Regions from separate parts of the Homo sapiens genome. Here region 2 is linked to region 1. The links come from fine-mapping of genetic effects on gene expression. A gene starts in region 1. The other region holds a variant in brackets. All regions are shown on one strand. Distances are from middle to middle.

Region 1 (2,907 bases):
TTGGCGCACAGCTCTTCCAATGAGTTACAGGAGGCGGGGAAAAGGTGGAGGCGTGGACTCCCCTAGTAGCAGCGAGAGTTCTGCACTACCGAAGCACGCCCCTCTCGGCCCGCCCCCTTTAATGCTGGACCTCGTACGTCACGACCGATTTCGCTCCCAGCGGCGTCTACTTCCGGGTCAGAGCTCAGACCTAGGGTGTAGAGAACAACCTTCCGTAACAGGCAGGAATAGTCGAAATAGGATAGCGTCGTCTTTCTTAAAGTGACAGGCTCAAAGCAATTGGGGCAGCCCTATCCAGAAGTTGTGAGGGCGACTCAGCTATTCTGAATCCAATCCTGGGCAAAGTTCTGGACAAGTCTCAGGTTTCTGCCAATGGGGAAGGGATATGAAGAAGCGGATTGTTTCCCAGGTGAGGAGAAGAAGAGAGCCTTAGGCAATCCACTCCAAGAGCTTGAGGTGCAGCCAGTTCCGTCTGTCCTCCAGTCTTCCCCACCCCATCCAACTAGCTCTACGAGGCAGAGCTTTCTCGTCCTCATATCATATATGAAAAGAATGGCCGGGCGCGGTGGCTCACGCCTGTAATCCCAACACTTTGGGAGGCCGAGGCGGGAGGATCACGAGGTCAGGGGTTTGAGACCAGCATGGCCAACATGGTGAAACCCGTCTCCACTAAAAATACAAAAATTAGCCGGCCGTGGTGCCACGCGCCGGTAGTCCCAGCTACTCGGGAGGCTGAGGCAGGAGAATCTCTTGAACCCGGGAGGCGGAGGTTGCAGTGAGCTTAGACTGCGCCATTGCATACCAGCCTGGGCGACAGAGCAAGACTCCGTCTCAAAAGAAGAAAAAAGAAAGAAAATAATGAGGCTCAGAATCGATGGATCGCACAGTCCCACAACTTCGCAGCCAAGACCAGACTCGGGTTCACCCCCTTCCCAAGTGTGGTTCTGTAACCCCGTTTTGCTGCCGCCGATGCGGATGCAGAGGGCAGAGATGGCCCATCCTTAGCAGAGACCAACCTCCACCCTAGGCAGCAGAGCACGCAGCTGGGGGCTTTTCTTTCTAGATCTCAAAAGCCTGCTGTGATGGGGGATCTGGTTCTGCCCTTTCCCTCTCTGCCTCTCCTGGCCCGCCTACCCGGGAACTCCCCGCCTGGAGCCTCTGGGAGGGGAGCGGTGCAGGCCGCCCGCGTCATCTGATGCTGTTTCCTGCAGGAGGGAGAAGAGCGGAAAAAAGTGAAACTCCACCCTCCACCTCTGCCTCCCGCCCCCGGGGCCAAAGTACAAAGGGAGGAGGAAGAAGGGAGCGGGGTCGGAGCCGTCGGGGCCAAAGGAGACGGGGCCAGGAACAGGCAGTCTCGGCCCAACTGCGGACGCTCCCTCCACCCCCTGCGCAAAAAGACCCAACCGGAGTTGAGGCGCTGCCCCTGAAGGCCCCACCTTACACTTGGCGGGGGCCGGAGCCAGGCTCCCAGGACTGCTCCAGAACCGAGGGAAGCTCGGGTCCCTCCAAGCTAGCCATGGTGAGGCGCCGGAGGCCCCGGGGCCCCACCCCCCCGGCCTGACCACACTGCCCTGGGTGCCCTCCTCCAGAAGCCCGAGATGCGGGGGGCCGGGAGACAACACTCCTGGCTCCCCAGAGAGGCGTGGGTCTGGGGCTGAGGGCCAGGGCCCGGATGCCCAGGTTCCGGGACTAGGGCCTTGGCAGCCAGCGGGGGTGGGGACCACGGGCACCCAGAGAAGGTCCTCCACACATCCCAGCGCCGGCTCCCGGCCATGGAGCCCTTGAAGAGCCTCTTCCTCAAGAGCCCTCTAGGGTCATGGAATGGCAGTGGCAGCGGGGGTGGTGGGGGCGGTGGAGGAGGCCGGCCTGAGGGGTCTCCAAAGGCAGCGGGTTATGCCAACCCGGTGTGGACAGCCCTGTTCGACTACGAGCCCAGTGGGCAGGATGAGCTGGCCCTGAGGAAGGGTGACCGTGTGGAGGTGCTGTCCCGGGACGCAGCCATCTCAGGAGACGAGGGCTGGTGGGCGGGCCAGGTGGGTGGCCAGGTGGGCATCTTCCCGTCCAACTATGTGTCTCGGGGTGGCGGCCCGCCCCCCTGCGAGGTGGCCAGCTTCCAGGAGCTGCGGCTGGAGGAGGTGATCGGCATTGGAGGCTTTGGCAAGGTGTACAGGGGCAGCTGGCGAGGTGAGCTGGTGGCTGTGAAGGCAGCTCGCCAGGACCCCGATGAGGACATCAGTGTGACAGCCGAGAGCGTTCGCCAGGAGGCCCGGCTCTTCGCCATGCTGGCACACCCCAACATCATTGCCCTCAAGGCTGTGTGCCTGGAGGAGCCCAACCTGTGCCTGGTGATGGAGTATGCAGCCGGTGGGCCCCTCAGCCGAGCTCTGGCCGGGCGGCGCGTGCCTCCCCATGTGCTGGTCAACTGGGCTGTGCAGATTGCCCGTGGGATGCACTACCTGCACTGCGAGGCCCTGGTGCCCGTCATCCACCGTGATCTCAAGTCCAACAACAGTGAGTTTCTGGGGGCATGGTTGGGGGTGGCATGGCTCTGGTACACACCTGCTCCCAACCTTCCACTGAGCCTAGCTTAGGGTCTACTGCAGGTAGGAGCTCCCACCCTAGGGGGTCCCAGCTGACCAGGGGTGCCCATGGGCTCAAGCTAGCCCCCAAACAGAGCCCCAGGCACCCAGCAGAGTCTTCCTGCGCCAGCTTCAGAAGTCCTTGACCCCAGCCTGCAGCTGCGGTTTGGACAAGTTAAGAAATTGGTATCTCTCAGGTGGGCCATAAGCATCCTGCCCAGCCATGGCTCCCACCTCAAGGAAGTCCTCTGGAAGCTCGTGCTCCTCATCTTCTCCTCCCCTAAATTCATGTTCGTGGAGTTGGTGCTCTGTCCTCCCCTCCCGTCGT
Region 2 (2,907 bases), 480 kb before region 1:
TCGGTTTGCCAGTATTTTATTGAGGATTTTTGCATCGATGTTCATCAAGGATATTGGTCTAAAATTCTCTTTTTTGGTTGTGTCTCTGCCCGGCTTTGGTATCAGGATGATGCTGGCCTCATAAAATGAGTTAGGGAGGATTCCCTCCTTTTCTGTTGATTGGAATAGTTTCAGAAGGAATGGTACCAGTTCCTCCTTGTACCTCTGGTAGAATTCAGCTGTGAATCCATCTGGTACTGGACTCTTTTTGGTTGGTAAGCTATTGATTATTGCCACAATTTCAGAGCCTGTTATTGGTCTATTCAGAGATTCAACTTCTTCCTGGTTTAGTCTTGGGAGGGTGTATGTGTCGAGGAATTTATCCATTTCTTCTAGATTTTCTAGTTTATTTGCGTAGAGGTGTTTGTAGTATTCTCTGATGGTAGTTTGTATTTCTGTGGGATCGGTGGTGATATCCCCTTTATCATTTTTTATTGCGTCTATTTGATTCTTCTCTCTTTTTTTCTTTATTAGTCTTGCTAGCGGTCTATCAATTTTGTTGATCCTTTCAAAAAACCAGCTCCTGGATTCATTAATTTTTGAAGGGTTTTTTGTGTCTCTATTTCCTTCAGTTCTGCTCTGATTTTAGTTATTTCTTGCCTTCTGCTAGCTTTTGAATGTGTTTGCTCTTGCTTTTCTAGTTCTTTTAATTGTGATGTTAGGGTGTCAATTTTGGATCTTCCCTGCTTTCTCTTGTGGGCATTTAGTGCTATAAATTTCCCTCTACACACTGCTTTGAATGCGTCCCAGAGATTCTGGTATGTTGTGTCTTTGTTCTCGTTGGTTTCAAAGAACATCTTTATTTCTGCCTTCATTTTGTTATGTACCCAGTAGTCATTCAGGAGCAGGTTGTTCAGTTTCCATGTAGTTGAGTGGTTTTGAGTGAGATTCTTAATCCTGAGTTCTAGTTTGATTGCAATGTGGTCTGAGAGACAGTTTGTTATAATGTCTGATCTTTTACATTTGCTGAGGAGAGCTTTACTTCCAACTATGTGGTCAATTTTGGAATAGGTGTGGTGTGGTGCTGAAAAAAATGTATATTCTGTTGATTTGGGGTGGAGAGTTCTGTAGATGTCTATTAGGTCCGCTTGGTGCAGAGGTGAGTTCAATTCCTGGGTATCCTTGTTAACTTTCT[A/G]TCTTGTTGATCTGTCTAATGTTGACAGTGGGGTGTTAAAGTCTCCCATTATTATTGTGTGGGAGTCTAAGTCTCTTTGTAGGTCACTCAGGACTTGCTTTATGAATCTGGGTGCTCCTGTATTGGGTGCATATATATTTAGGATAGTTAGCTCTTCTTGTTGAATTGATCCCTTTACCATTATGTAATGGCCTTCTTTGTCTCTTTTGATCTTTGTTGGTTTAAAGTCTGTTTTATCAGAGACTAGGATTGCAACCCCTGCCTTTTTTTGTTTTCCATTTGCTTGGTAGATCTTCCTCCATCCTTTTATTTTGAGCCTATGTGTGTCTCTGCACGTGAGATGGGTTTCCTGAATACAGCACACTGATGGGTCTTGACTCTTTATACCTAGGAATCCAACTTACACGGGACGTGAAGGACCTCTTCAAGGAGAACTACAAACCACTGCTCAATGAAATAAAAGAGGATACAAACAAATAGAAGAACATTCCATGCTCATGGGTAGGAAGAATCAATATCGTGAAAATGGCCATACTGCCCAAGGTAATTTATAGATTCAATGCCATCCCCATCAAGCTACCAATGACTTTCTTCACAGAATTGGAAAAAACTACTTTAAAGTTCATATGGAACCAAAAAAGGGCCCGCATCACCAAGTCAATCCTAAGCCAAAAGAACAAAGCTGGAGGCATCACGCTACCTGACTTCAAACTATACTATAAGGCTACAGTAACCGAAACAGCATGGTACCAAACAGAGATATAGATCAATGGAACAGAACAGAGCCCTCAGAAATAACGCCGCATATCTACAACTATCTGATCTTTGACAAACCTGAGAAAAACAAGCAATGGGGAAAGGATTCTCTATTTAATAAATGGTGCTGGGAAAACTGGCTAGCCATATGTAGAAAGCTGAAACTGGATCCCTTCCTTACACCTTATACAAAAATTAATTCAAGATGGATTAAAGACTTAAACGTTAGACCTAAAACCATAAAAACCTTAGAAGAAAACCTAGGCATTACCATTCAGGACATAGGCATGGGCAAGGACTTCATGTCTAAAACACCAAAAGCAATGGCAACAAAAGCCAAAATTGACAAATGGGATCTAATTAAACTCAAGAGCTTCTGCACAGCAAAAGAAACTACCATCAGAGTGAACAGGCAACCTACAAAATGGGAGAGAATTTTCGCAACCTACTCATCTGACAAAGGGCTAATATCCAGAATCTACAGTGAACTCAAACAAATTTACAAGAAAAAAACCAACAACCCCATCAAAAAGTGGGCGAAGGACATGAACAGACACTTCTCAAAAGAAGACATTTATGCAGCCAAAAAAGACATGAAAAAATGCTCACCATCACTGGCCATCAGAGAAATGCAAATCAAAACCACAATGAGATACCATCTCACACCAGTTAGAATGGCAATCATTAAAAAGTCAAGAAACAACAGGTGCTGGAGAGGATGTGGAGAAATAGGAACACTTTTACACTGTTGGTGGGACTGTAAACTAGTTCAACCACTGTGGAAGTCAATGTGGCGATTCCTCAGGGATCTAGAACTAGAAATACCATTTGACCCAGCCATCCCATTACTGGGTATACACCCAAAGGACTATAAATCATGCTGCTATAACAACATATGCACACGTATGTTTATTGCAGCACTATTCACAATAGCAAAGAGTTGGAACCAACCCAAATGTCCAACAATGATAGACTGG

The links. PIP is the estimated chance that this variant, and not a neighbour inherited with it, causes the effect.
Region 2: its variant is fine-mapped to the expression of MAP3K11 in adrenal gland (GTEx, PIP 0.98).

Annotation. Positions count from the first base shown.
Region 1 is chr11:65,612,622-65,615,528 of GRCh38, reverse strand. MAP3K11 (mitogen-activated protein kinase kinase kinase 11) reads left to right here and starts at 1,308. Exons shown (of 10, transcript NM_002419.4): 1 at 1,308-2,511. The coding sequence starts at 1,773. RefSeq lists enhancers at 129-218, 279-328, 211-1,097, 839-1,268, 1,986-2,873 and a silencer at 1,519-1,698.
Region 2 is chr11:66,091,910-66,094,816 of GRCh38, reverse strand. The region is part of intron 1 of PACS1 (phosphofurin acidic cluster sorting protein 1); the gene reads right to left. Among named protein-coding and RNA genes, the nearest start is that of PACS1, 23 kb to the right of the region's middle. The variant A/G (reference allele first, on the strand shown) is at 1,175.